Linked DNA regions of Homo sapiens: region 1 is linked to region 2. A link means that fine-mapping ties the variant in region 2 to the plasma level of a protein whose gene starts in the linked region. Region 2 holds a variant in brackets. A gene starts in the other region. All regions are shown on their forward strands.

Region 1 (15,663 bases), not on the chromosome of region 2:
CCGAGATGAACTGCAGGGAGGGTGAGGAGAGAAAATGGTCACCAGGGTGGGACAAGCCAGGGGCCAGATGGGAGTCAGTTGTCCTCCTACCTTCTCTTTATTCCAGGACCGTGTATTGAGCACTTGCTAGGCACCAGGTGAGAGTCTGTGTGATCTCCACGGATGAACCCCTTTGATCCCCACAACCACTGTGAGATAGATACTACAACTGCCCTCGATTTACAGATGCAGAAACTGAGGCGAGGGGAGGTTGAATGGAAGGGACATTTGGACCCAGGAGGGCCGGCTCCGGAGCCCACGCTCTTACTCACAGCCCCCTCCACTCCATCAGGATGTAGACCCCACTGAAACCAGGTGAGAGCTCAGAGCACCACCCGCTTGGGGGCAGCAGAAAAGAAGGGAAATGCTCAGATTTCATTATTGTATTCAGGATTTTGCAATCAGAAAGTCTAGAAAGGAACTATTTCTATTTGTGTGTATGCAATTTTTGCATACTTAATGACTTGGTATGGTTATTGTTTTAAAGACCCTATTTTGGGGGCACAGCCTCCTATTTTTTATACCAAGCACAGAAACACTGGTGGGAGGGAAGGAGAGAGAGGAAGAAGACAGGGATGAGGCCCGCGGCTGGCTCCCAGGATGGAGAATGTCTGCTATCAGCCTCAGCATTGCCATTTGCTTTAGTACCCACAGTCTCACTGCCCGGATAACAGAGATGGGCATGGGAAAACGGAGATGTAGCATGGTGCTGCTTTAGGGATGGAAAGACTCATGGATGTGAAATGCGGCTGTGCTTTCTCAAGTTAACCAGATTTGATCCCAACCACAGCCCTGGCTGGTGCACCAAGGAGTGTCGTTTTACAGAGGAGAAAATCAAGTGGCCAGACCGAGGTCACGCAGGAAGCAGAGAGCAGAGATGGATTTGCGCCCAGGAGGCTGTGGGCAGGCCACTGCCAGAGCTGGGAACGGAGGCAGTGGCTGAACCAAGGCTGGGTTTCTCGTTTTCTCAGGGCCCCAGGGTGCAAGTGACATAAAGCAGGGATAGTCGCGGGTGGGACATGCAAAGGGAGGCCTCAAGAAGCATCAACACCCCATAAGCCCCTCTGCTGGGAAAGAGGGGCAGCTCCACAAACGCCTACTCTTGGGCATCAAGGTGGATGCTTGACTTCACCTTCCATTTCATGAATGCCACAAAACAAAGTGGGGGCTCAGGGTGTCATGGAGCAAGCCCTGTCCTTAGAGAACTTGAGAGAATCAAGTTCCAGGGCCACCTATGCCCCGACTCCATGTGTGACTTCACCCACCCAGATGGCCTGGTTGGGCCCCCAGCTCAGACTTTCTGGAGTCCATGGCAGAGCCACTCATATCTAGAAAACAGTGGAACGGAGCCACTGCATAATTGAGAAATGGAAACACTCTCGGCACCCACCACCCTGTACAGCCCCTCAGTCCCTCAGAGAGACAATCTGTCCACAGGTGAGGTGGAGACTGTCTTATGAACAGCGCAGAGCGAAGGTCCACCGTGAGGGGGAAAAGCAGACATCTGGGCTCTGTCTCAATTTTTTGCAGAGGTTATGCATCAGATTAAGCATGTTTTAGGGAGACCTGGGTTCTAGTGGCCAACTGGTTGTGATATCTTGGCTGCATGGTTTTTTCTATCCAACACTCGGCTTCTTCCTCTCTAGAGAGAGAACTCAGTCATTGGAAGTGTATGGTGAGCCAAACACGTGCCAGTGGGGCACAGAAATGGTAGCCCCTAGGGAGCTGAGTGTCTGCTGGGAGACCGCTGGGCAAAGAGACAAATTATCACACAGCCTGGCAGTGCCATGACCGGAGATGAAGATAAAGTGCCATGGTGCAGGGAGGGGCTGGCAGATGGAACCGCTGAAAGCCTCGTGGGCCTGGGGTTCCAAGCAGGGGAGATGGCTTCGCACTGGGCCTTAGTGGATGAACAGGGATTTGCAGAGAGAAGATGGGCAGGCAGGGACGGCCTCACATGCAGGGTTGTCTGTTCACGCTGGTGATGTGGAGCAGTTGGGCAGGCAGGACTCTGCGCAATTGTGGGGTGGGGTGCAAAGGTCGAAGTTAAAGAGGGGTGGCGGTGGTTGTCAATGGGTGATATTGTGCCACAGTGGATTCAGAGCCTGGTTCCAGAGTACCATGGATCTGACTGTACCTCCTGGCTTATCAGCTGTGTGACCTTGGGCAAGCTACTTAAACCCTCTGAGCTCTCAGTTTCCAAACCAGCAAAATGGGGATGAGAAGGGTACTTGCCTGGGGCAGAGACTGCTAATTACGTCCACAATATCCATTTCCCTTTCTTCCTTGGTAACAGAACACTAGTTGTATTTGGAGGGGTGATAGACTACCTTTCCCAGCTTCCCGTGCAGACAGGATGGCTCCGTAACTAACTTCTGGCCAATGAGATGTAAATAAAATTGTTGGATGAGATTTCTGGGACTCCTTAAACTCCTCAAAAGAGAGCATTCCTCTCTTTCTCCTGCTTCCAGTTGGGAATATAGAAGAGGTGGCTGGAGCTCTTGCAGTCATTTTGGCCATGAGGCAACTTTGAGGATGGATGCCATGTGCTAGGCATGGCAGCAAATGCTCACTGTGGCCCATCCCAGCGGGTAGCTATCACCACATCCTAATCCTCATGGCTGCACCAGACTTCCTGCTGTTTCTACCCTCGGGGGATGCACCTGTCCCTGTGGTCCTTCATCCCCAGCTCCCTCCTCTCCCCAAATCGCCTCCTCCCACCAGTTATAGACACACAACCTGAAGCCCAGGCTCCTGCCCCCAACCCTGATCCACCCAACTTTCCAACCCATCTCAGGAGGTCCAAACCAATTGCTTGTGCTGGAAACCGAGGTCCTGTCTCTTCATCTGTGAAGATGCTGGAACCAATAGAGCCAACCTGCTGGTCACCCCCACCCCAAATTGAGCCCCACTTGCTGAGCTCCTGCCACATAAGTCCTGCATGTACCAGACTCCCAGTGGCACAGCAGTTAGGGGCTGGGGTTCTGTAGTAATAGAGACCTGCGTTTGAATCTTGGCTCTGCCATTATCCACCTCCTGTGACCGTGGACAAGCTGCTTAACCTCTGTGAGCCTCAGTTTCCCCATCTATCAAGTGGATATGATAATGGTACCTACCCATGGAGAGGATGCAAATTTTGCACCCAATATCCCCTCTCCCTTTCCTCTTTGGTAATAAGATGTGAATTTGGCATACTAAATTAAAAATGCTAAGTGTGTTCATTCTCAACAATCCCAGGAGGAAGGCAAAGTGGGTGGCAGTCCCCTTTACAAATGAGAAACCTGGGGCACAGAGAAGAGTGGCATAGGTCATCCCACAAGTTAGTGGCTGAGCTTGGACTCGAACCCAGATCCCATTGCCCCACCCGAGGCCTTCCCCGCATCCTCCCACCTGCCCAGGCTCTGCTCCTACCTCCAGGTACTTCACGGGGATCTTGTGCTTGGTGGCATGCGACTGTGCCAGGGGCTTAATCTCTGCCTCATGATGCCCCTTCTTCTTAAGGATGCCACCCAGGGCGGTGAGCACGGTGGCACCATGCTTCTTTAAGTCCTCAGACGCCTTCATCTCGTCCTCTGACTTCAGGTGCTTGAACTTGTCAAACTTCTCCAGAGTCTCTGGGTGACCCTTAAAGAGCCTGTGGGCACAGGGAAGGCTGGAGTCGGCATGGGAGGTGCGGTGTGAGGTCTGGGGGCAGCCAGACTAGAGTTCAAGTTTAGCTCCCTGTCTTCCCAGCTGTGTGACCTTGGGCCATTCACTTCACCTCTCTGTGCCTCAGCTTCCTCATATAAGGGATGGGGATAACTTGTCCCTACTTGAAGGATTAAGTGAGATAGTGTGTGCTATGTACCAACAGGGTGTCTGGCACATAGTGAGTGTCATATAATTCCCATTTTACAGATGTGGAAACCGAGGTTCTGAGGCGTAAAGTCACCAGCTCACTATTGCAGGGGTGCTGTCCAGAGAAGCCAGGCTGGAATGAGGTCTGAGTGACCAAAACAGCAGTTCTAGTCCACGCTGCGACCATCTCTGCAGCTTCCTGCCCAGGGATTGTCCTTCAGCTGCTTAAATACCTCTAGCTACAGGAGGCTCACTCCTACCTGTGAGGGCCATTCCACTCCAGAGCAATCCTCACACTCAGAAACCTCTTGCTTGTTTTGAGCCCAAGCTGTGACTCTCTGAACCTCCCAGTCCCCTCACTGTGCAGATGACGAAGGGTCCTGGTGGGAGCAACTCAACCCAGCCCTGAGACAGGCACCCACTCCTGCCAGGCACTCAGTGAGGTGCCCCAGAGGCCTCTGCTGGGACTCTGAGCAGCCACCTCCAGCTTTAGACCTCGGTCCTTCCTGCCCACCTCCAACTTTAGACCTTGGTCCTTCCTGCCCACCTCCAGCTTTAGACCTCAGTCCTTCCTGCCCACCTCCAGCTTTAGACCTCAGTCCTTCCTGCTGTGAGCAGGTGGGTGCTGGTTAAAGGGAGTCAGACCTGCCCTCTGGGTAGGAGTGAGTTTCCGCCTTTTACTCATGGAAGACCACAGAGATAAGTGGCCAAGGTCACTTGGCTAGCTAGCGGCAGAGCCCAGACCTAAACCCAAAATGGAACAGTTTCATAACTCCCACCCTTTCCCTTGTGCCACAGCTGAAATGTTTGGCACGGGCAACCCTGTCTGCCCAGGGCTCTCTCTCCTGTCTAATGGTTTCAGTTCCTTGAAAAGCTCCTCTTTTATGATACCCAGGCTCTGTGACATCCTTGTAAAAGTACACAGTATGTATTGTGGCCACACTCCAGTTTGCGCCCTGAGCCACCATGCCCAGAAGTTGTCACAAGGAAGCACCTGATCCCCGTAGTCTCCATCCCAGGGTTTTATGAGGAGGGTATTTCACAACCAGGATGCTGAGCTCCTCAACCTGAAAATGAGTTCATGGTTTTTTTGTTTTTTGTTTTTCTTTTTTGAGATGGAATCTGGCTCTGTTGCCCAGGCTGGAGTGCAGTGGTGCAATCTCTGCTCACCGCAACCTCCACCTCCTGGGTTTGAGCAATTCTCAGAATTCTCCATGTTAGGCAGGATGGTCTCGATCTCCTGACCTTGTGATCCGCCTGCCTCAGCCTCCCAAAGTGCTGGGATTACAGGCGCCCAGCCATATTAACTGATTTTAAAATCCTGATGGGGTAGACGCCATTTTGCAGAGGAAGAAACAGAGGCACCGAAAGACTAACTAGCTGGGGATTTAACCCAGGCAGTCTGGCTTCATGTCTATACTCTTGATGACTATTCGGACTTTGTTATTGTTACACAGAGATATTTACAGGCAAACTGATACCTACATGGACATGTATCAACACCTCACACGTGTACATGCATGCAGGCTCTCACAGATGTGTGTGCACACTCACATATGGGCCTGCACACTCACACAGAGGTACACATAAATATATCCCAGCACACGCCATACTCACCTGCACACACACACAGAGACACGCACAAGCCTGAACCACATACACTCCCTTCCCCCATGTTGGGCATGGTCTGCCGCCGTGCCCAACATTGCCACCTCGCTCCAGGACCTTATCCAAATCCTCGTGCGTCACTGACGGCTTGTCTCTGACACCTTTCATCCAAGGGTCCCTGAGCTCCTGACTATTATTATCTGGCGACAATGATCCTTGAACTCCCGCCTGACAGATGCAAGACCTGGCATGCACAGGCGATGGTCAGAGGTCAGGACGCTGAAAGCAGACTGTCTGAGGCAGAGCAGGGCCAAGAATTTGGGCCACAAGGCAGCTGGGGGTCTCAGACATTTTGGGGCCTGCCCCTGCCCTCTGATATCTAGGGAAGAGAACATGGGACTGACAGTTACGGAAGCTGAGTTCCGGTCCCAGTTCTGGCGCCAATGTGCTCTGTGATGTTGAAGTCACTTAGCCTCTCTGGATCATTGCTCATCCATATGTAAACCAAAAGGGTCTAGACCCGCCAATGCCTTTCTTTCCACTCAACACCAGACAGCCAGGGAGAGAGCTCATATTTACTTTATTAATATTTTTTTGAGACACGGTATTGCTCTGTTGCCCAGGCTGGAGTGCAGTGGTGTGATCTTGGCTCACTGGAGCCTCAATCTCCTGGGCCCAAGTGATCCTCCTACCTCAGCCTCCCGCGTAGCTGGGACTACAGGCACACACCACCACGCCCAGCTAATTTTGTTTATTTTTTGTAGAGAAGGGGGGTCTCACTATGTGGCTCAGGCTGGTCTCGAACTCCTGGACTCAAGCGATTCCCCGATCCTGCCTCCCAAAGTGCTGGGATTATAGGCCTGAGCCACCCCACCCCACCCCATATTTACTTTAAACAGCAGAGCAGAATCGGGCTAATTTGTCTCCCCGCAAGATCATTCCGGCACCACACAGCTGCCTGCCTCCTGTGGGCCCAGGCCTTGCAGCTAGGAGCCCCCCAGGCAGCCACAGAAGGCCATTCTCCTGGATTTGCCTGATCCGGAAAATGAACAGATGAAAGCCCCTCAGCCTGTGGAAATGGACGGAGGGCGTTTGCTCTAGTATTTCAGAAAGCCCCGCTGGCCTGTGTTTCCAGCTTCAACCCTGCTGTCAGTGGGCCTGGTTCATCAGACAGATCTTCAGTCCAAGTCAGAGAGAAGGGAGGCCATTTTCCTGCTGTTCTCTGAACTGAGGCCCAATTGGACACTCACATGGAACATGGAGCACATTGTCAGATCCATGAACACCCCTCTGGCTCTACTAGAATAAAAGAACCAGAGCGTGGGTGGCAGCCCGTCTTGCGTGTGGCAAGGTCATGGGGCAGTATAGCATAGTGGTCAAGAGCAAGGATTCTGGGCCGGGCTCATTGGCTTGTAATCCCAGCACTTTGGGAGGCCAAGGCGGGCAGATCACCTGAGGTCAGGAGTTCGAGACCAGCCTGGCCAACATGGCGAAACCTAGTCTCTACTAAAAATACAAAAATTAGCCAGGCATGGTGGCATGCACCTGTAATCCCAGCAAGACTCCATCTCAAAAAAAAAAAAAAGGAGCAAGGATTCTGGATCCAAGCTGCCTGAATTTGAATTCCAGCTCCTTTCTTACTTGCTGTGTGACTTGGCGTAAGTTACTTAACCTCTCTGTTAAATGTGGTGATCATAATCATATCTACCTCATAAGATTGTTGTCAGGCTTCAGTGAGTGAAACACTTAAACAGAGCCCAGCAATCAGTATGTGCTGAATAAATGGTTGCTGTCTTTCTCCTCCTCATCATCTCTACCATTATCATTATCATTATCATTATCATCACCATCACCCAGGAATTTTTGGTCCTGCCTGTGGCTGCCATTAACCGGTGGAGACTCTCAGGCCCAGTTCCTCCCTGTAATGAGAAGTAGTGACCACCACTGGTGATTTTCAAACATTTTATGACCTTGAAATCCTTTGTTCCCCCCGCTCCCCAAAACAGCCAAAGTAAATAAAACAAAAAAGGTTTGAGTAAAGAAAGGAAAAACAGGGGTGTGGAGCCCACTCAGCAGCCCCCTCCCTTCCGAAGCCCCACTCCTGGAGCCAGAATCTCCAAGTGACCTTCCAGCTTCTGTGTTCTAGAATTTTATGTTTGTGTACGTGCAGTGAAGGCCTCAGTGTTTTACAGACTGGGCTTCATGGAATTTGCCCTCTTTTACAATCAGAAGATTGGAGACATAACCTTTCAAGGTCAGTTAGAAAATCCAGAGTCAGTATCTAGAACAAAGTCAAGATGCCAACTCTCACGGGTGGCATTTGCAGTCCTGGGCATGAGCCTCCTCCACCCTGCCCCCAGGGAGGCCATCCTCCCTGTACCCCAAATACTGAGAGGGCAGAACCAGCTGGCACAGTCTCTGCATGTCCCACAACCTAAGACGTGACAGGGCACCAGGCCTCTGGGACCTTTCAGGGACCAGCAACCCTAGGCATTATGTCTTATCCCTGGCTCCCGGCCCCCGGCAAACCTCCGTGATCCTCCCTGATGATGCAACACCCTGAGTCTCTTTCAAGACGTACAAGTCACTGCCTTAGGTCTGGCAGCTCCCAAATCACCTTGGAAAGACCTCTGCTCTGCAAACTCTGGTCTCCTACCTCCACGCCTGACTGTCCTGCCTCCTCGCCAAAGGCAAAAGTGCATCAAGGACTCAGAGAATTCTAGGGCATGAGCGTGGGACGGGATCTCGGAGACCATGGAAGACAATCCCTTCGCTCAACCAGCAGAGAAATAAGGCCCAGAGGTGGAGAGACTTGTCCAAGGTCACATGGCATATCTGTGGCCCAGGAGTTGATGTCAATTTGTGTGTGTGTGTTGGTCGGGGGAGCACTTTGTGCAATCCAACAGGGCCTGTTGCAGCCAGATGACAGGGACAGGAGAAGAAAGACATAAACACACTACGATGCCATTACAGTCAACAGAAAACTCAACTCTTCTTCCTCAAGTGTTTCTAGCACGGATCACCAACGGCTCAAATTTTAGATAACGGAGCTTCCAGGACCAGCCATGCTCCCGAGGTAGACGGAAGCTGGAAATGGGTAAAGCCCAAGGGAGACCCAAAGGACGACGGAGTGGAAGAGGAAAATTGGCTCTGGCTCACAAATAAGGAGAAATTAATCTGCAAATTAAAGTGCCAAAGACAATCCATTCACTTGTGGCAACCCCGGCGCCCACTTCCTTCCTCCCGTTGGCAGAAACGTTGATTCTTAACCTATTAGACTTCTGAGGGAACCAGCTCAGAATGGTGAGGGAAGGGGCCAAGAGAAGAGTGTATCACCTTTGGGATAGAAGGCAACGAGGAGATGAGCTTCTATGTACAAACCACAGCCACCCTCTATTTACAAACCTCAGAATTTTGTTTTCTTTGGTGTATTCTGGAATCCCTTGTGGTAGAAGGCAGGATATACTTGCAGACCACATCATTCAGACCTCTCAAACTAGAGACATACTCAACATCGAAGGTCACTAATGAGCCTCTATCTTCTGTTCTCTAATTGCAATGCTTTGAAAGGTCCCTAGCCTGGGCTTCATCAGTAATAGCTACTAACATTTCTAGGACTCAGTATATGCCAGGAACCATGCCAGGCCTCTTGCATGCATTATTTTATTTAATTCTCACATCTCCTCTAGGATATAGATATTAGGATATCCCCTCACTGTACAGGAGAGGAAATTGAGGCTCCGAGAGGTTGAGTACTTTCCCAAAGGTCACCCAGTGGCTCAGTGGCAGAGCCAAGTCTAGAACCAGATCTGTCTCCCCTTGAAGAGCATGTCTTAACCTTGACACTTTAAGAGCATTTAATGAGCTGTGACTCTGGAAATGTCCTCCCCTTCTCAGTCCCTTTTTGTCCTCATCCTGTAAGAGAGGTGGCTGTACAAAATCTCTCAGGACCCTTGTTAACTCTGACTGTCTATAATTCTAAAATTCTTCCTGGTGGACTCTGAGCATCCTAGGTTTGATTCTCATGCTTCCTCCAGCTGCTGACATCAGCCTGAAATGGCTCCTTTCCCTCTCCTGAGTCCAATCCCTGACACTTAAAAGCAAAGAAAAAGCAAGTGACCGTTCTAACACCCTTAACTAATGCAGCCAACTGACCTACCCCACGTGCAAACTTTCCACCTTGCAGCTGAACACCCTTGATCTTAGGGTGTGGGTGGCAGGGGCAATGGAATCTCTTCCTTTTACCTGATGAGGACTTCCTGCCCATGGCCTGGGATGTCAGCCTCCACCTTCCCCCAGACGTTCAGCACCAACTGCCATTCCCCGTCGCTGAGCCCCATGGCGCAGTCTGAAGAAGACAAAAAGAGCAAGTATGGGCTCACTGGGTGTCCTGGCCCCAACAGCTGGGGTTTGAGGCTGCCTGGTCCCAAGGGCGTTTTTATACCTTCTGGGATGCTTGACAAAGATCGCTCAATGGCTCGCTGTCCCCCTCCCCTGCCCTCCTTCACTTTCTCTCTCTCATCCAGGGAGGGTCTAATCTTTTCCTTTCTCTAGCCCTCACATGGGAAGCTATTTTAGGGCAGGTGCCATTGTGGCGAGGCAGGACAGCTCAGGCCACAGGGGGTGGGGTGGTTGTGCGTGTGGAAAGAAGGGGAGGAGGTTGGGCACTGTCTGGACTCTCATAGCCGACAGAAAGGGCACCACAGAAGCCGACGCCAGCAGCCTGAAACCCAACGCTCCCTGCGGTCAGCCCTCCCAAGAGGACCTGTCATGTTTCTAAGCTTGGCCACCAGGTGCCCCGGCTGGCCCCAGGACAGTCCTGGCCATTCGCAACCTCTCACGCACCTTCTGCCCCTTTGCCAGAGACCCCTCACCCAGCCAGAAGTGACAGAAAGGAACCGGATGGTTTTGTGCTTATAGCCAGGTGGTCCCAGGCAAGTCCACAATCTCTTAGAGAACTCCTGTTTTCATGACCCTGCTCAAAGGTTTCCCTCTGAAAAGTTTTTCTTGACATACTCCTTTGAGACACCACTAATTGCTTCCTCCTTTCCTTTCTTTGTGTAAGTTCCTGTTGCATTGCTTCCCAAAGGGCATCCTATTTCCTGGTTTTCATGCCATCTTCTCCATTAGGATAATAGCAGCCAGCACTCACAAGAGACTTTGCTGGGTGCCAGGCCCTGTCCCAAACACTTGGCATTTGGTAACTCATTTAATCCCCGCAAGACCTCCCAATGTGATAGGTACTGACATTATCCCTATTTAATTGAGAGAAAGTAGGGAAACATCACTGATGTACAACTAGTCGCTGGCAGAGTTGGGATTTGAACTCAGGAAGCCACGCCCCTTTCTTTGCAGTTTTCAGGAGGGCAGGAGCTCTGTTTTATTAACCCACGTATCTCTTGGGCCTCACATGGTGCTTTGTGCCAAGTTTGAACTGAATAAATGTTTATTGAGTAAATGGGTGGATGGTTTTGCAAAGAAAGAGAGTGGAGGATGATTAGCCTTATCTTACATCCATGCATCCTCCTTCAATCCATTCAGGTATTCAACCATCTATCCATTTATCCACTTGTCCATCCAGTTACTCATCCATCCATCCATCTGTCATCCCTTAATTCATCCATCCATCATCTCTTTGTCTATCCATGCATTCACTCATCTATCCATCCACCACCCATCCATCCAACATCTATCAATCCCTCCATCTATCCGACATCCCTTAATTCATCTATTCATCTATCCATCATCTCTTTGTCTATCCAGGCATTCATTCATCTATCCATCCACCCATCCATCCAAAATCCACCAGTTCCTCCATCTATCCATCTATCCATCCATCCATGTGTTCATCCATCCATCCCTCAATTCATTCATCCACCCATCATCCCTCCATTCATCCATCCACCCATCCCCTCATTCATCCATTCATTATCCCTCCATTCATCATCCCTCCCTCCATCCATCTATCCATCCATCACCCACCCATCCCTCCATCTATCTATCTGTTCCTCCATCCCTCCATCCATCCATCCACCCATTCCCTCATTCATCCACTCATTATCCCTCCATTCATCATCCCCCCTCCATCCATCTATCCATCCATCATCCACCCATCCCTCCATCTATCCTTCTATCCATCTGTAACTCCACCCATCCATCCATCCCTCTCACAGTGATAGAGCACCTACTGTGTGTCAGACACTGCTACATGCTGAGGATAACAAAATCAAATAAAACACCTTCCTGTGTTCAAGGAACTCAGAGTCTTTTTAGGGAGATAACTAAGAGGAATGAAAATACAGTACAGTTTGTTTAGTGCTATGATCAAGGTAGGCACAGGCCCTTCCTTCCATCTGCATAAGACTATACAGTTTACAAAGTGGCTGCTTGGCAAGATTACATCTAATCTTTACAACACCTCTGTGAGGTAGCGAGCACCACCCCGCTTTACAGCTGTGGGAGATGAGATTCAGAAAGGATAAGCCAGTGTTTGGGCCATCCTGGGTCTGCACTGGATTTGTCAGTAATGACTGCCCCACCTACACAGCTTTTTGAAGATAACTGCCCTGCCCCAATCTTGCTGAGGTGCAGGTGTAGCCAGTCATGTTCTGGGACACACAGTTCTCCCGCAAACCTGCTGCCAGTCACAGCCAAGCTGAGAAAGCCAATGTCAGGGCTCCATCTGAATAGTCAGCATCTACTAGCTCTGCCAGTCAGATCCCAGCTTCAGAATGTGAACAGAGATGTTTGGTAAGAATTGGACAAATAATAGGAAATGTAGCTAGAAAAAGAGTTAAATTCAAAGAATCCCCAAACTTGGAGTTCCCCAGTGCAACTTTGGGTCAGAACGCCCTCTGTGTGGGTCTCTAAAGCCTGGCTGGTGACCATTCTAGGATTGCCATGAGCCGCCACTCCCTGGAGGAGCCTTGTGTCTCCATTCAGTGAGTCCTGTGTACTGAGTCGGCTGACTCCTAGCGACCAAAAGGGTCAGAGGCACCGGCTGCACCTCTGGCGCCCCTTCCCTAGTGACCATTCCAGAAGTCAACCCCAAATGCTAGGCCAGCCGACCTCCAAAGGCCCATCTCTTTAGCAGTGGAAGAAGCAGTAACAAAATAAGTAGCTAAAATGCCATGGGGGGCCGGGCGTGGTGGCTCACGCCTGTAATCCCAGCAATTTGGGAGGCTGAGGTGGGTGGATCACAAGGTCAAGAGATCGAGACTATCCTGGCTAACATGTTCAAGCCCTGTCTCTACTAAAAATACAAAAATTAGCTGGGCATGGTGGCACGAACCTGTAGTCCCAGCTACTTGGGAGGCTGAGGCAGGAGAATCACTTGAACCCGGGAGGCAGAGGTTGCAGTGAGCCGAGATCGCTGTACTCCAGCCTGGCAACAGAGCGAGCCTCCATCTCAAAAAGAAAAAAAGAAGCCATGGGGATGCCAAAGGGGATCTCATTCATTCATTCAGTCAGTCAGTCATCTGTTTGTTCCTTTGTTCATTCATTCATTTGAAAGCCCATTACTGAGGCCCCAGTCTGTGCCAGGCCCAGCCTCAGAAGGAAAGACAACTCTGAGAGGGTCTGCCCCGGTCTCAGACTCTCAGCAGTTTGACCCTTACTGCTGGTCACTCGCTGGAGGTGAGTCCAGGGTGTGAGAGAGGAGGGCAGAAAGAAGGAGATGGCATTGAGCTGTGCCACATCTGACCTGGGGCCCCCTGCCTGGTGCGCTGGGGAAGGCCAAGAGGCAGATCTGAGACTCCTGGAGATTGAGACGCAATGTGCGGTTTTCAAATGCTCTCTGGCCTGTGCCCTCCCGAGAGTGTCAGAACACCCCTGAGGGTGCGGGGCAGGGCAGGGCTGATTACTACCCGAATCCCAGCTCTTCTCCCGTCTCTGGCCTCCTGAGTTGTCTGGGGATGGCCTGAGCATTTAAAATCTCATCAACCCATTACTGATGCTGAAATGTTTAATATGAAGCTATCACCCGCTTGGCAAGCGCCCCCATTAACTGGCATGCTCATGGAAACCTGTAGCTTTGAAGTTGATGGACCTTTTAAGTTTTACCATTTAAGCTAATGGGAAGGCACCGACATCTGTTTGTACTCACACATCTCTACAACAGAGCAGCGTTACCTCACAGTTGCTATGGCTACCTGGAGTCACCAGCTCTGTTTGGGGGCTATTATTATCCCTGTGACAGCCTTCATTATGGCCAGGGCAGAGAAGCTGCAGACACATGATAGGAAAGCCAGGCTGCCTTTGTGTGCAAAACTTTCTACAGCCTTACACGCTCATGCTACACACACGCACACACACGCACGAATGCAGGGCACATTAGTCTGATACCCAGTGGGGCAAAACTGGATCCCACCAAGTCAGACCTCCTCTTTTTCCCTTTCATATCACAGGATCCTTTGAATCCAAAACTGAGACTTGTAGAATCATCCTCAAGGCTCCCAATTCTGGAATCTTGAGATCCCAGAATTAAAATTCTAGAGTGTCAAAGTCTTCAACTTTTCAGCACCGGAGAAACTTGGGTTCTAGATTCCAGACTTATAGAGAGCTAGAAGCAGAGAAATCTAGAATTATAGGGCCATAGTATCTTGTGACTAAAAGAGGCCTTCAACGGTATTTTGTCCAATTTCCCACTAAACATAGTTTTCCCTACAGATCATCATCTGGCATCTGCTTGAATACTCCTGGGAGTGGTGAGCTCACTACCTAAAGCTTTAAAAATCCTTTTTTATGTCGAACCAAAAGATGCCTCCATGTCACGTGCACTTCCTTGCGGCAGCTCCGCCTGCTCCTTGGGGATATAGAGGCCCAGCTGAGTCTGCCTCACAAGAGAAGGAGCAGGCTCACCCAAGACTTTTCTTGTCCAGACTGAACATCCCAGGACTTCCACTGAGCACCCTCCCCAGGCAAGGCAAGTCGGGGGCCTCAGTCTGGTGGAGAAAGACGGGCTCTGCCATCTTCGGTCTCCAGCCACTCTCACCTCTGGTCACATGCACACAAAGAGAACGCTATAGCAAAGGGGATTCCAGCACCCACCTGCACAGGTTTGAGCCCCTCAGGCAGCTGTGCACCTGGCCCACAGTTTTTATGGTCAGAAAATCCAATCTAGGTGACCTAGGAATTTGCTAGCCCTTGGACAGCTGACAATTCCCTTTGGTAAATCTGGGCTTAAGACACCACCAAGGGAGATCAAAGATGTGGCAAGAAGGAGAACTCTGGCTCCTCAAAGCCAGGACTCCCCACGATCTTCACTACTCTCTTCCTCCTCCTTCTGGGAACCAGCCTTTGGAGGCCAGTCTGGGCAGTGCCTCCCTCCTGCCAGCAGGCCCTCCCACCCCACCCCCAGCTTAGCTTGTGCCTCCCTGGCAGAGTCTACCCTCCTGGACCAGCGCCAGGCCAGGGCTCAGAGCAGGGCTGAGGCCTGGGAGTTGCAGGACCTGCTCAAGGCCCTTGATGGGGCAGCAGAACCCCCAAGCTTGCTCCAGACTCCCAGGAACCCACCCACCAGGGCTGCTCCTCTCCAGCCCCTCAGCATCCATCATACTGACCACAGCTCCCCTTCTCCCCAGCTGTCCTCGCAGAGCCTCCAGCCAAGCGGCCAGGGCTGGGGGTGGGGAGAGGTGTCTTATAGCAGCCGGGGAGAGGCACAGGGAACTAAAAATACAGTTTACATGGCAAGGCTCCTCCTCTCCCTGCAGGCCCAGAGGGGCTTATTGGAGGAGGGCTGGCAGGGACACAACATCCTAATCCCTTAGTCAACAGGTGTGGCCTGGGACACCGACCTGCCTCCCCCCTCCACCCTCCCCAGCCTTGGAGGCTCCGAGTGGCTCCTCCAGCTCCACCATCCACCTGTCACCTGGACAGAGACCAGCCCCGCCTCCACAGTCACCTAACCCCACATCCACCCATCCTCCCCTTCCTTCAAGGCCCATTGCATAGGAACGGCTCCCCTGCCAGGACTCCTCCCACCCCGCTCTACCCATTCCCAGCAGATGTGCCCTCTTCCCCACTCTGGCTCCAGCATGGGTGCAGCCTTCTCATCTCTCTTGCTTTGGGGTGCACCTGTCTGGACTGGCTTCTCCCCATTTCTACCCTGTGAGTGCCTCAGAGGCAGGAATATAAAAGCCACAAACTCATATTGTACTTAGTGCACACCAGGGACACCCC
Region 2 (15,663 bases):
ATAGTAAATATATCCAAAGAAAAAACAATCAAAACAATTAAAGATGAAAATGATGCCTCATGAAATAGAAACTATCAATTAAGACACAGAAATTATTTTTAAGGACAAAATAGAAATTCTGGAGTTGAAAAGTACAATAACTAAAATGAGAAATTCACTAGAGGGGCTCAATGGCATATCTGAGCAGGCAAAAGAATCAGTGACCTTTAAGATAAGTCAGTTGAGATTAGCCAGTCTGAGGAACAGACAGATAAAAAGAATAAAGAAAAATGACGAGAGCCTCGGAGACTTATGGGACACCATCAAGTTTATGTAAAGGGAGTCCCAGAAGGAGAGGGAAAGAGAGAAAGGAGCAAAAAAGGTATGTGAAAAATAATGTCCAAAAGCTTCCCAAATTGGATGAAAAACGTTAAAAATCGACAAATTTATGAAGCTTAATGAACTCCAGGTAGAATAAACTCTAAGGGATCCACATCTAGACACATGATAATCAAACTGTTGAAAGATAGAGACAGAGAATCTTAAAAACGGAAAGAAACAACTCACCACATATGAGGAATCCTTAATAAGATGAACAGCCAATTTTTCCCCAAATCTATGGAGGCCAGAAGGTGGTGGGATGACATACATATATTAGCTCACCTAATCCTCACAGAAACCTCCGTGAAGGCCATGCTATTATCATCATCCCAATCTTACAGATAAAGAAAATCAACCACTGAGAGTTGAGATATTTGACAAGGTAACACAGGTGATGAGCAGAGCAGCCAGGACTCACACTCAGACCCTAACATTCACCGTTTTAGTCAATACATTAACTACTTTACAACAACCCAGTGAGTGGGTTCTTATTCTACAGGTGGTTCTTATTCTACAGGTGGGTCTCATTCTACAGGTGGTTCTCATTCTACAGGTGGTTCCTATTCTACAGGTGGTTCTCATTCTACAGGTGGGTCTCATTCTACAGGTAGGAACAGGGAGGCTGAGCATAGCCTTCCCCAGGCTAACCAGCTAACAAATAGAGGTTCTCCACTCAAGTCTTGAATCCAGAGCCTCCTTTCCCTCCAGTTCCTTCTCACACCCTCTATTGTGCATGAAAACACAGCTCCTAAAAGCTCTGACCCAAGTGAACACAAGGAGTCCAGCTTTTGACATGGCATAGTTTGAGGGCAGCTGGACCAGAAGCTGGTGCAGTGGAGCAGACTTCTCAAGGTCCCACTTAGTCTTAAAATGTTGGAGGCTCAGTGGGCAAGAGTTGTCTAATTTTTCCAAATTAGACAGTCTTAGACTCCAAACAGTCTTAGAAGGACTTCCATGTACAAGATCAACATCCAAGACCAATTCCAATGCCTCCAGAATGAGAGTAGGAGCCTCTCCCAAAGGAGAGACTATGTGTTCTGAAAGTCCAAATGAACCCGCAAAGAGGCCATCCCCTGCCCTTGGGCTGGGTGAAGTGCTGCTTCTTTCAGACTCTGCCTCTTTAGGGCAAGGAGGCAGGTTGCCCCAGGGCCCACTTTGCCTAGTGCCCCATTTTCCCTACTGGTCCATCTTCTCTCAGTGCGGGAACTGGGATTGTATAAAAGAGCATGATACTACTGACCCCAGGAATTTCATGGGCTCACTTCACCACCCACAGAAGTCCATGCCAGAGGCCTAGGCCAAAGCCAGGCTTCTCCCATGGAAGAGCAGTGCTCTGAAGCTCTAGGGTCAGGTCTTGGAGATTTCCAGCCCATTTTATAAAATTCTTCAATCAGAGATGTGGAAGGAGACACAGCCCAGAGAAACCACTGTTGGGAGCTGATAGAACTTCTTTTACCAAAAGGCTAAAAACAACACTGACATCAATGCAAGTTAGAGGCTTCCTTGCACCCCTAAAGTACCAGTTTCTTTGGTTTTGGACAAATCCACAAAGTATCTTTGAATATATGAAAGTCTCCATGGACAGTCACTTGGCACACTGATACATTCTCAGTGATAACCCAAGGCATCCACTAATCCTGCCAGCTGTTCCAACTATCAAAGAAAGATCCCTATTAACTCAAGTTCAGCTTGGAGCTAAATGTGGCTTCTGCTCTAATTCTTTGAAACTGGCACACTACACATGGTTCTGCACAGTTACTGATGCCCTTAACCAGAACACTGGGTTAGCCAGACTATTCCATCCCCCAGTCAAGTCTGAGAGCTGAGTTCACCATATTTTTAATAAATAACCCATTTAATATTTTTAAACCGCTGAGTCTTACAGAAATAAGGAGATTAAAATCAGCATAAGCCATCTGCAGAGACAAAGGAGAATGGCACGACCTCAGAGTTCCTAACACCCCAGATCATCATCCTGGCATTGGAATCTTTGCTGACTTAGTCGGAAGCAAAGCTGCAATCCCTGAGCTTTGTGTAAGTGTGATGGAAGCCAGGGCAGCGGGGCAGAGAGGGGCATCCCAGAGGCAGAGGCAGGAAGACTGAGAGTCTGCACAGGACCGTCACGGTCCCTCTCCTCTTGACCCATGACTAAGATGGGTCCACCTCGGATGTCCTTCCTCTTTACGTTGCCCTGGATGCTCAGTTTCCCAAATAATATCCACCTAGACCCAGGAACAGGGCAGGGAGGGAAGGGGCTCATAGTAGGGTCTGTCCATCTGAACAGGACCCTGCACCCTCTTGAGTAACATGGGCAGATGCCTGGCCTGATTTGTCCTAAATGAGGCCTGGGTCTGACGTGCCCCCACCCCTACAGGGGCCATTAGAGACCATGAAAGGGTTTATGGTCTCCAATGGGCAGCCACATAGCCCAGGAGTGGATGTTTCTCTCAGGTTCAGGGCAGGAGACACCGGTCTTTTTCACATGCTAAGCCCAAGAAAGGGGAGAGGTCAGCCCATCAGTCCTCAGGCCCCCAGTTCAGCCATGTAAGAGTGAAGCTGAGGCTTCCTGTTACCCTGAGAAGGAATCCTACCCACTGGAGGCCCCCTCCCTCCATTTGAGGACACTTAATGGAGAAGAGGGAGGAGGAACACTGTACCTGGACCACCAAAAGAAAAGCATCCCCCCAGAAGCTCACAACCTGGCTCCTGCAGACACGTAGCCTACCCCTGTGTCTGAGTTAAGATCATTTCTATCCAAGCAGCCAGCAGCCAGGCGGAGCCTGGCGTTTATCTGGTGGGGATTTGGTGAGCCAAATGCTACCTGTGTGAGAGTCACCTCAGCAACCCACCAGGTGCAAACAGCTGTGCCCCCAGCAAGGCACTCCATGGCCCTCATCTCAGGGCCCTCCGCTGGGAAGGATTTTAACTTATGGCTTTTGAGCAGTCAGGGAGGCAGCTGACCATGAAATACACTTGAATTCAGTCAATTCTGACAACTGAAATTGGCCCTTCAAGAATGAAACAGAAACAGAAATGTTTCTTTGTCCAGAGGGAGACACATGGAGACTTATGACATAGCATGGGCCATTTTGAAGCAGTGATTCGAGAGATCTACAGCCAATAATCTAACAAATAGAAGAGATCTGCATTATGCTTTAAAATAGCACCGGATGCCCAGAGAGAATAGCAGAGCACCAATTCTGACATCACCACCAGCAGTCAGACACCCCAGGTAACGCGGTTCAAAAGGAAAGTGATTTAAATATAGAAGCACACAGAGAAGGCTGTTTATGCCAGGAATGGGTACTGCTGCTAAACCAGATCCCATCTCCAGGGGTCATTTGCTTCCTCAACCTCAGGAGAGGCAGCAGCCCTGGCTCTGGGGGGAAGGAGGGGCATGGTATGAGACCACAGGCTTAAGGTGCAAGAAGAATGATTTAGGTCCGGTTAAAGAAAGTCTTCATCCCAAAGAAAAGCCTTGGTATCACTGCAGGTACATTTCCAGAAAGAACTAGGCATCAACCGCCTTATGAGCATCTAAATGAAGCCTGGAAGTGAAGAAATGAATTGGCAAACTAGACACCATCTCAACTAGAGAAAGAGATGTTTTTCTATTTAAGGGTCACTGATCCACAGGAAAAGAAATCAATGAAGGGCCTCCACAAATAAAAAGCAAACTAATTTAGTTTTGGAAGGAAACATAATATAAAATAACCCATTCATCCACTTCCTAAATCAAGAGCAAAGAAGATAAACCGTATTTAGCAAGAAATAAGACTGTGCTTTTTTTTTTTTTGAGACAGAGTCCCACTCTGTCACCCAGGCTGGAGTGCAGTGACACGACCTCAGCTCACTGCAACCTCTGCCTCCTGGGTTGAAGCAATTCTCCTGCCTCAGCCTTCTAAAGTGCTGGGATTACAGGTGTGAGCCACCACGCCCGGCCTGTGCTTTGATTTTATAGTATACCTAGCTATGAGAGAGAGACTGAAAGAGAAAAATGGAAATGAAATTATATTTTAAATCAGCATGAATTTCCTTGTGCTGAGCCCCTCCCCTCTCCCTCATCAAATTCAGATTTGCGTTCCTACTGCCCACAGACTTTCCATAGCTTTTATGACAATTATCAGGTGGGCCAAGCGGCTTTGTGGGGGCAGGTCTCATCTGGGCTGTCTCGCAAAGACCAGGGACCCAGTGAAACCACATGATGGTCACATTCAGCCCTCGTAGGGGTTCCATCTGCATCCAGGCCATCCCAATGGCCACTCGGAAAAAGCCCTTTGCAGGGCATTTTAAGGGGCCTGGAGCAGGGTTCCCATCCTGGCTGCACATCAGGCTCTCCCAGAAAGCTTTTGAAAAACACTGTTTCCCAGGTCCCACCAATGAACCAGGGTGTGCCTGGATTCTGATGAGAAACACAGTCCCAGGTTTGGGGTTGATCCAGGGTTTCTCAACCTTGACACTCTTGATATTTTGGCCTGGATCATTCCATGTTGGGAGGACCTGTCCTGTGTGTCTTGGGATGTTCAGCAACGTCTGTGGCCTCTACCGGCTGGGTGCCAGGTGTACCCCTCTCACCACCACCATAACCCCAGGCATCGCCAAGTGTCCCCTGGGGGGGCAGAATCGGCCCCAACAGAGACTGCTGTTTGGTTCTTTGTTGATTGTGCACCCTGCACACCCTGAAAAATGGCTTGAGCCTGGGCCTCGGTTACCCTGTCTGCCTAATGGGGTGCAGAACCCACAGGCCGTCTGCCCTGCAGACTCATCCAGCCTCAGCTCCCTGAAGACCTCCCAGCCCTGCAGGCAACCTCATTATCCCACTGAGATGTTGTTCTAAGGGTCAAAGACAGATGTTTCAGCCCAGATTAAGGATCTGGGGAGAAGAGAGGCTGCCAGAGCCCCCTGCATGCCGAGCAGAATGACACCACGCTCTCTGCCAGGCCTCTGTCCTTGCTACGGGTTGCTCCCCTCAACTCACAGTCTGTCTCCTCCTTTGCAGAGAAGAACTGTTCCTACTTCAGGCATTTTAACCCCGGCGAGAGCTCGGAGATCTTCGAATTCACCACTCAGAAGGGTGAGCCTGGGTGGAAAGGGGTCTGGGGTGACAAGAGGGGACTTCTGTGTTGTGCACCACTGGGCCAGAAAGTCATTGGCAAAAGCACTGACTTCCTCACGCCTGATGAGAAGAAGCCTGTGGTGCATTTGAACAACAGCCTTGTCAGCTCCCCGCTCCGGAGGCCCCAGGCAGCCGCCTTCCATCTCCAGGGCCCGGAGCTTCCACACCTCGGGGCCAGGGAGCGTTTGCAGAAGCAGCACCTCCTGGTAGGCCCCTACACAAGGGCAGCTGTTGTGACGGGAGGTGTGGATGTGGAACAAATGCTCAGAAGCCCCGTGGTGGCTCTTGGTGGCATGTGATAGTTAGAGTCTGCAGGGACAGTCTGAGTCCCTCCCTGGCCTAGAAATCCCTCCCTGAGTACCAGGAGGGTGCGGTGGGCTCTGGGAGCTTTTCAGGATCCGCAGAGCTCAGACGCACACCCATTGTCGGGAGTACAGACCCGTGCCTGCCTGCGCCCAGACAGCTGCACACAGGGTGAGTGGGCAGACACACAGACACACACTGACACACACAGACACACACAACACAGATACACACACACGACACACACAAGACACAGACGCACAGAGACACTGACACACACGCATGATGACACACAAAATGACACACAGTGACACAGACACACACTGATACACATGCATGATGACACACAAAATGACACACAGTGACACACACAGACACACACTGACACACACGTACAATGACACAGACACAGAGACACACACTGACACACACGTACAATGACAGACACAGAGACACACACTGACACATATGCATGACACACAATGACACACACAGACACTGACACACACACAGATACACACATACAATGACACACACAAGACAGACACAGAGACACACACTTGACACACACACAATGACACACACAGACACTGACACACACACTGTGGTGCATGGTGTGGTCCCTAACGAGCCATGACAAGAGCTCCCATGCTGAGGCCGCATGCTGGGTGTCCCTTGTGTTTGCAGAGTACAGCATCTCGGCAGCCGCCATCGCCATCTTCAGCCTTGGCTTCATCATCCTGGGCAGCCTCTGTGTCCTCCTGTCCCTCGGGAAGAAGAGGGACTATCTGCTGCGACCCGCGTCCATGTTCTATGCCTTTGCAGGTAGACTGGGGGATCTGCCTGAGCGCCGGGGCCGGGGGACCATGTCGCGGGGGATTCTCCGCTCCACCCTCATGCCCACCGCGAGATTTGGGTGAGGGGCATTTCCCAGGCTCCATCCCCATCCAGGGGCAAACCTGGCCAGGCCATCAGCGACTCCAGGTGGGTTGGAGGGAGACAGAGCTTGGCGGTTTGTCCATTCCTCTCCACGACTCAACCCTCAAGGCCCCAAAGAAACTGCCCAGAGAATGATTAACAAAAGAAGGAAAGAAACGTGGTCACCTTTCTTTCTTTTTCTTGGGGGATGAGGAAGAGGGTCTCGCTCTGTCATCCAGGCTGGAGTGCAGTGGCACAATCACAGCTCACTGCAGCCTCGAACTCCTGGGTTCAAGGGTTCCTCCCGCCCCAGCCTCCTAGTAGCTGGGACTACAGACGTGCACCACCACACCTGGCTAATTTTTCATTGTATTTTAATTTTTTGTAGAGACGGAGGGCTCATCACTATGTTGCCAGGCTGGTCTCAAACTCCTGGCCTCAAGCGATCCTCCTGCCTCAGCCTCCCAAAGTGCTGGGATTACAGGTGTGAGCCACCACACCTGGCCACATGGTTGCCCTTCTGAGGGATGCAGGAATAGGGTGGTGGGTGGACAAATGGATCCTTCTGCAGGTTCCCATCTAGAACCTGCCTTGAGGCAGCTTTTCCCCCAAGGCAAGGTCACCGCCTCCTCCATGCACACAGGCTGGGATGGGGCTGGTGGCTACGGCAGACGCCCCTCGGTCCCTGAGCATGCCTGGCTCTGCCCCCAGGTCTCTGCATCCTCGTCTCGGTGGAGGTCATGCGGCAGTCGGTGAAGCGCATGATTGACAGTGAGGACACCGTCTGGATCGAGTACTATTACTCCTGGTCCTTTGCCTGCGCCTGTGCCGCCTTCATCCTCCTCTTTCTCGGC[G/A]GTCTCGCCCTCCTGCTGTTCTCCCTGCCTCGAATGCCCCGGAACCCATGGGAGTCCTGCATGGATGCTGAGCCCGAGCACTAACCCTCCTGCGGCCCTAGCGACCCTCAGGCTTCTTCCCCAGGAAGCGGGGTCTTGGCCTGGAACCTTCCAGAGAGGAGGCGGGAGCAATTTTAGCCCCACCCTGCTCCCATCTGCCCCCCTGCAACAGTCGCAGGCTGCTTCCTCTCTCTGAGTTCCTCTGGGCTGCCGCAGGCTCCCCTGGGAATAGAGCAAGACGTGAGTCCTAACCTGGCCACAGTTGGGGGAGGCAGAGCCAGCAGGTGGACAGGTGTTTGCAGGGGCCCAACTTCCCCTGGAGCTCAGAGGTGTCCCCACTGTACCAGCCTCTGATAAGCTGCCTCCAGTTGTCCTTTATGAACATTGCAGGGACAACCTGTGTTTGCCAGCTGGGTGTTCCGTGTAAATAGCCAGCCTGTCTCTTTCTCGGTGATAAAACACACCCTCTCTGGTGAGCCCAGCGTCCCCTCCTTGGCTTCCAGGAGCCCTGGGAAGCATTTTTAACTGGGTAGAATCTGACTGTGGCTTGAAATAAAAAGCTCTCAGAAAACTCATGCTTTCCTGGAGCCTTGCATAGAAATCGCTCGGATTCCCAGTCACATCAGGGGCTCCCCTGACGCCGAATGAGAAGGAAAGGCCGGTCACCCGGGTATGTTGAGGTCTTTTGTGGGGACAAGAGGGCAACGCACGTGGCTTAGAGGCTCTGAATTCCAACTCGTATCTCTAGGCCCTGAGATTGTTTTCGGGAGAAACTAGAAACCCTCTGATGAAGCAAGGGTGTTAAAAATAGGAGGGGTTATTTCTAGAGCCTGGCATGCAACGCACCTGGTGCCAACACAGCGCTAAAGCAGCCAGCCAGTGTCTGATTTCTGATGTTGGATTTTTCTTGTGAAGAACATCAGGAAGCAGGGCTTAGCAGTTAGACACTTAGGGCCACATGGAGAGCCATGATTTGCACTCTTCTGCCTTCCAAAACCCCGCAGTACTTGCCCAGGCTTCCAAAGTGGAGTTCAGACATGATCGGCAGATGGGATCCTTGCCTTGCACCCCGGAGAACCCACTGGAGTTCACGCTTCTAGGGCAGGGTTTGGCAAACTATGGCCCATAGGCCACACCTGGCCTGCCCCCTCTTGCTGTATGGCCCACAAGCAAAAGGTAGTTTTTACAGTTTTAAATTGTTAAAAAAATAAATAAAATTTTTTTTTTTTAAAAAAGGCCAAGCGTGGTGGCTCACGCCTGTAATCCCAACACTTTGGGAGGCCAACATAGGTGGATCACAAGGTCAGGAGTTCAAGACTAGCCTGGGCAAGATGATGAAACCCCATCTCTATTAAAAACACAAAAAATTAGCCGGGCATGGTGGCATGTGCCTGTAATCCCAGCTACTCGGCAGGCTGAGGCAGGAGAACTGCTTGAACCCGGGAGGCAGAGGTTGCAATGAGCCGAGATCACGCCATTGCACTCCAGCCTGGGCGACAGAGTGAGACTCCATCTCAAAAAACAAAACAAAACAAAAAAACCCCCAAAACAATCAAGGAACTGGGCATCACGGCTCACACCTGTAATTTCAGTAATTTGGAAGGCTGAGGCAAGAAGATTGTTTGAGGCCAGGAGTTTGAGACCACCCTGGGCAACACAGCAAGACTCCATCTCTATAAAAAATAAAAATAAAATAATTTACAGATAAAAAGAAGAAGAATATCTCATGACACATGAAAATGATAAGAAATTCACATCTCAATGTCTGTAAATAAAGTTAGATTAACACCAAGCCACGCCCATTCTATGGCTGCTTTCGTCACCATTGAGTAGTTTCAACAGAGATCTTCCATCCCGCAATGCTGAAAATATTTACTATCTGACCCTGTATGAAAAATGTGTGATTACGCCTGTTCTGGAGGAAAACTACAACCATCAGCCCCCATATCAACCTCTTACTGGTCCCATCTAAAAGCTGAGGGGAAGTTCATTATTTCAGTTCGCCTGCGGTATCTCGGGGGTGTGGGCTGGGCTAGGAGGGGTGTCAGAGGAGACTCACTCAAAGACGCAAAGATCCAGCCAGGAAACAAACTTGCTCCAGGTAAAGGAGAATCAGAAGATGACTGTCCTGGCCAGCCAGGGAGCTGGGGCCATGATTTATGAGTAAGAAGGAAGAGCGATAACTTCATCCCATTGATAACCATTTTGGAGGTTGATATTATTGGTGTTTTTCTTTTTTTCTTTTTTGAGACAGGGTCTCACGTTGGAGTACAGTGCCCAGGCTGGAGTACAGTGGCACAATCACAGCTCACTATAGCCTCGAGTTCCTGGGCTCAAGTGATCCTCCTACCTCAGCCTCCCAAGTAGTAGGGACTGCAAGCGTGCGCAGACCACACCCAGCTAATTTTTTTTTGTTTTTTGTTGAGACAGGGTTTTGATATGTTGCCCAGGCTGGTCTCTAACTCCTGGGCTCAAGCGATCCGCTAGCCTTGGCCTCCCAAATTGCTGGGATTACGGGCATGAGCCACCACACCCAGCCTTTTTTTTTTTTTTTTTTTAACAGATCGGAGTCTTGCTATGCTGCCCAGGCTGGCCTCAAACTTCTGGGCTCCAGATGTCCTCCTGCCTCAGTCTCTGGAGTAGCTGGGATTACAGGTGTGAGCCACCATGCCTGGCTCCAATATTATTCTTTTATTACTATTTTTACTTTTAGCAGAATCAGACTGGCATGCATTTTTTCTTTTCTTTTCTTTTTTCTTTTTTTTTTTTTTTCTTTAGATGGTGTCTTGCTCTGTCACCCAGGCTGGAGTGCAGTGGTGTGATCTCAGCTCACTGCAACCTCCGCCTCCCGGGTTCAAGCAATGCTCCTGCCTTAGCCTCCCGAGTAGCTGGGATTACAAGTGCCGGCCACCACACCCAGCTAATTTATTTTTGGTAGAGACGGGGTTTCACCATGTTGGCCAGGATGGTCTCGAACTCCTGACCTCAGGTGATCCACCTGCCTCAGCCTCCCAGAGTGCTGGGATTACAGGCGTGAGCCACCATGCCCGGGGCCTTGGCATGCATTTTCTACTTCCCCATGGATGCCTATGGGTCGGTCCCCCCAAAACACATCTGAATGGAATATCCACCAAACAGAATACATTCGGCTTCCCAGGCTTTTAACTCTTCCAAGATATACTTCAGCACAGCCAGAACTGCGATACAAACCAAAGGGTTGGAGGCTGGCCGCCAGAGAGCCACACATCCTGGCATCTGCCCCAGAAAGAGGCAACGCAGCAAAGCAAAATAAAGTTGACCAAACCAATGAGGGAAAACGTCTTACTCCCCACCCGCCAAATGCTGCTTGCCAGAAGGATGTCCACAGGGGAAAATGGTTGGCTTTGCCAGGGACTGAAGGCCTCACTTCAGGGTCCATGCAGGCCCTGCTCTGAAGGCCACCCAGAGCCCAACCACAGAACAAACAGTGCCATCTGCCCTGAAGCCTTGGTTGGCCTCAGAAGCTACTGGCTTCTCATTCCTTGCTGTGGGAACTGTGTGTTTTTTTGTTTTTTTTTTTTGAGACAGAGTCTTGCTCTGTTGCCCAGGCTGGAGTGCAGTGGCATGATCTCAGCTCACTGCAACCTCCGCCTCCCAGATTCAAGCGATTCTTCTGCCTCAGCCTCCTGAGTAGCTGGGACTACAGGCGCCCACCACCACACCTGGCTAATTTTTGTACTTTTAGTAGAGACGGGGTTTCGCCATGTTGGCCAGGCTGGTCTCGAACTCCTGACCTCGGGTGATCCGACCACCTCGCCTCCTGGAACTATGTGACTTTGACCCACAGCACACCTTGATGTCCTGTCACACTTGCAATTTCTCAGCGTTTTTTGTTTTTTTATTAATTTTATTATTATTATTATTGAGACAGAGTCTTACTTGCTGCCCAGGCTGGAGTGCAGTGGTGCGACTTCAGCTCACTGCAGCCTTGACCTCCTGGGCTCAAGCGATCCTCCTGTCTCAGCCTCCCGAGTGGCTGGGACCACAGGCACGTGCCACCACACCCGGCTAATTTCTGCAATTTTTTTTTAGAGACAGGGTTTCGCCATGTTGCCCAGGCTTTCTCAGCGTTTTTACATCCATCATCTTCCGTGAGGCAAAGAAGGCAGCAGAGGCAGGACCAGCAACTAGTTCATCAAGATCCAGACTTAAGTGTGATTTTTTAAGAACTGTGGTAAAATACACATAACGTAAAATTACCATCTTAATCACATTTTCGTGTAGAGTTCAATCACGTTAAATACACTCGCATTGTTGTGCAACTCTGAACACCGTGCATCTCCAGAACTCTTCGTCATCCCAAACTGAAACTCACAAGCACTAACTCTGCGTCCTCTCCTTCCCACAGCCACTCTTCCACTTTCTGTCTCTGGGAGTTTGACTCCTCTAGGTACCTCGGGATCAGCGGAATCATGGAGTATTGGTCCTTTTGTGACGGGCTCATTTCCCTCGACTGCTAATGCCTTTAAGGTTCATTTGCACGGTACCAGGTATCAGAACTCCCTTCCTTTTTCAGGCTCAGCAATATCCCACTCTACGTATTCCCATATTTTGTTTATCCACTCATCCACTGATGGACGCTGGGTTGTTTCCAACTCTTGGCTCTTGTGATTTACTGCTGCTATCAACACGGGTTCATGCTCTGCTTCAGGCCCTGCTTTTGGTTGTTTTGGATGCACTGACTGGGACATTTTTAAAAAATTAAAATTAATGCAAAATCTCCACAATTAACACCATATCAAAACTATTAAGTAGGTGCAAACGTAATTGCAGTTTTTGCCATTGAGAGGAATGGCAAAAACTGGGCAGATGTGGTGGCTCATGCCTGTAATCCCAGCACTTTGGGAGGCAGAGGCGGGTGGATCACTTGCGGTCTGGAGTTCAAGACCAGCCTGGCCAACATGGTGAAATCCTGTCTCTACTAAAAATACAAAAAAAAAAAAAAAAACAGCCAGGCGAGGTGGTGGGCACCTGTAATCCCAACTACTTCAGAGGCTGAGGCAGGAGACTCGCTGGAACCTGTGAGGCGGAGGTTGCAGTGGGCCAAGATCCTGCCACTGCACTCCAGCCTGGGTGATGGAGCAAGACTCCATCTCAAAAAAAAAAAAAAAAAGTAATGGCAAAAACTGCAATTATGTTTGCACCAACCTAAATTAGAACCAAGGCTGCTGTTTTCCCACCTGTCTGATGAGGGCCCTTACCAATCCTCACTTGGCCTCTGCCCAGGTTCCTGGGAGAACCAAGAGATGGCTCCCTCTCTCTCTGGCCAGCACACGGTAGGACCTGCTCCAGTGGCTTGGTGCTTAGTTCCTCCTTAAACTGAAAATTTCAAGGATCTCTGTGTACCTCTATTTTTTTTTTCTGGCTGTGCCGGTAAAGACGGATTTTAATCACAGCCTATCGCAATATTTCCCCTGCCAGTGTGACTTGTTCCATTTTGACCAAATATTTTATTTACAAATCCATTTCTAATTTATACCCTGCCCACTTTCAGAAATGATTAGAAGTGGAGACAAGGTATTAATAAACCTATGATGTGGAACATATCTATTAAACCAATGATTGGTATTCAGGCTGGGATGCAGCTGCCCCTGGCTTCCCCAAGCCTTCATTTCTCAGTCTCACTCAATTGCAACCACTGAGGCCATAAATTAATCCCCACACAAGGCATTGATCCTGCACATTGGAGAAAGTTAATTAAGGTCATTGCCATTACAAGCAGCGATACTTTCTATTCTTTTGGCTTTGCTTCTGACAAGAATTTTTGCCTAAATGTGAAAGCCTGGACTTTTTGGAAATTTTCGTCATTTAGGGGATATGACTTTCATACACAGCTAGCCCTACCTTACTGCTACATTATTATTATTATTATTATTATTATTATTATTATTATTAGAGACAGAGTCTTGTTCTGTCGCCCAGGCTGGAGTGCAATGGCGCAATCTCGGCTCATTGCAATCTCCGCCTCCTGGGCTCAAGCAATTCTGCCTCAGCCTCCCAAGTAGCTGTGACTACAGGCACGCACCACCACACCCGGCTAGTTTTTGTACTTTTTGTAGAGACGGGGTTTCACTATGTTAGCCAGGCTGGTCTGGAACTCCTGACCTCAAGTGATCCACCTCGGCCTCCCAAAGTGCTGGGATTATAGGTGTGAGCCACCGTGCCCAGCCTTGTACTTTTGACCTCTGCTTCCTTCAAAAAATTCTCCAAATTTTCCCCCGAATATTTCCGTTGTCCAATGTTTGTGCTTCTACCACCTGCCCTTTAAACTTTGGTGTTTTCTGCCAGGTCTCATCTCACATCACAATTTCTAGGAAATCCCATTCATCTCCAGGACATCGGTTACCTGTGACCATCATAAGCCCCTGCCAATCTCTCATTCAGGTATCAGACCCGGTGTGTTGCCTTGCTTTCTGCAGAAACTTTGTTCTCCGGAGGTTCCAGGCCACCCCACGTGCCTAAGTCCAAACCTAACCCATGGCTTTTTTTTTTTTTCTTTTTTTTGAGGCAGTTTCACTCATGTTGCTCAGGCTGGAGTGCAATGGCTCCGTCTCAGCTCATTGCAACCTCTGCCTCCTGGGTTCGTGATTCTCCTGCCTCAGCCTCCCAAGTAGCTAGGATTACAGGTGCCCGCCACCATGCCTGGCTGACTTTTTTTTTTTTTTTAAGTAGAGATGGGGTTTCAGCATGTTGGCCAGGCTGGTCTCGAACTCCTGACCTCAGGTGATCCACCCACCTCCGCCTCCCAAAGTGCTAGGATTATAGGCATGAGCCACTGAGCCTGGCCCCAACCCATGACTTTTCTTAACCAAACCGACTCTGCCTTTTTTGTTCCCTCACTTTGATGGGCACCCTATGTACCTATGCCCCCAAGCCAGAAGTTGCTGTCATTTCTTGGACTCCTATCGTGCTCACTAAGCCAAGTCTCGCAGATTCTGCTTCTGAAATGACTCCCAAATCCATCTCCTCATTTTCGTTCTTTCTGTCACTGCCTAAGGGCTCTCTGACCCTCTCGCTGTCACTGGTGAGCACTGACTGCTCTGGAGAACACTGTCTCTCAAACATTCCAAGCCAGCTGACATCCCTCCCACACAGGGCCTCCTTCACTTAAACAAACACATGCTTACTGAGTATATTCACTTTCCATGGATGCTGTAGCAAATAACGGAAATGTAGTGGCTTAAAATAACACAAACTTATTCTGCTAGTTCTGGAGATCAGAAGTCTGAAATGAGTCTTATGAGGCAAAAATCAAGGTGTCTGCGGGGATAGTTCCTTCTGGAAGCTTCAGGTGAGAATTGATCGCCTTGCTTTTCCTGTTTCTGGAGTTAGATGGCGCTCCTTGGTTTGTGGCTGCGTCACTCCAATCTCTGCTTCCATCATGGCGTCTCTGTCTCTTTACTTTGATTCTCCTGCCTACCTCTTAGAAGGGCCCCTGTGATTACTACACTGGGCCTGCTCAGAAGATCCAGGAGAATCTCTTCACCTCAAATCCTTCACTTAGGCCGGGCGCGGTGGCTCACACCTGTAATCCCAGCACTTTGGGAGGCTGAGGCGGGTGGATCACGAGGTCAGGAGATCGAGACCATCCTGGCCAACACGGTGAAACCCCATCTCTACTAAAAATACAAAAAAATTAGCCAGGCGTGGTGGCGGGCGCCTGTAGTCCCAGCTACTCGGGAGGCTGAGGCAGGAGAATGGCGTGAACCCGGGAGGCGGAGCTCGCAGTGAGCCAAAATCATGCCACTGCACTCCAGCCTGGGCGACAGAGCAAGACTCAGTCTCAAAAAAAAAAAAAACACAAATCCTTCACTTAAGCACACCTGCCAAGTCCCTTTTTCCATATAAAGAAGCAGGTCTCACAGGTTAGGAAGTGGACATCCACGCAGAGGTTCTGAGGATTCGGATGGGGACGTTTGGGGAGGACCACTGTTCTGTCTACCATGCTGATGATCAACATTGCGTGCCAGGCTAGGCACTGTGCTAAACTAGAATAAAACAAGGAATAAATTACAGTCCTGTCCTTCAGGAACT

Alleles and levels. Alleles are on the strand shown, and positions count from the first base shown. The strength of an association depends on the size of the effect and on how common the allele is.
For the plasma level of the protein whose gene starts at base 9,896 in region 1, A is the high allele of the variant in region 2 and G is the other (weak association).

What was found. PIP is the chance, under the fine-mapping model, that this variant and not a neighbour inherited with it causes the effect. Protein levels are from antibody-based Olink assays in UK Biobank. Linkage for the fine-mapping came from a reference panel and not from the study's own genotypes, which makes the PIPs less certain.
Region 1: it holds the start of MB, and the variant in region 2 is fine-mapped to the plasma level of the MB protein (UK Biobank, PIP 0.94).

The regions. Positions count from the first base shown.
Region 1 is chr22:35,607,434-35,623,096 of GRCh38, forward strand. It overlaps MB (myoglobin), which reads right to left and starts at 9,896. Exons shown (of 3, transcript NM_005368.3): 1 at 9,730-9,896; 2 at 3,451-3,673; 3 at 1-10. The coding sequence starts at 9,824. RefSeq lists a silencer at 4,607-4,656 and an enhancer at 14,635-15,150.
Region 2 is chr17:67,048,637-67,064,299 of GRCh38, forward strand. It overlaps CACNG1 (calcium voltage-gated channel auxiliary subunit gamma 1), which reads left to right. Exons shown (of 4, transcript NM_000727.4): 2 at 5,360-5,434; 3 at 6,467-6,604; 4 at 7,409-8,161. The coding sequence ends at 7,635. Among named protein-coding and RNA genes, the nearest start is that of CACNG1, 12 kb to the left of the region's middle. RefSeq lists a silencer at 488-688 and enhancers at 3,087-3,216, 3,287-3,366, 4,571-5,415. The variant G/A (reference allele first, on the strand shown) is at 7,552.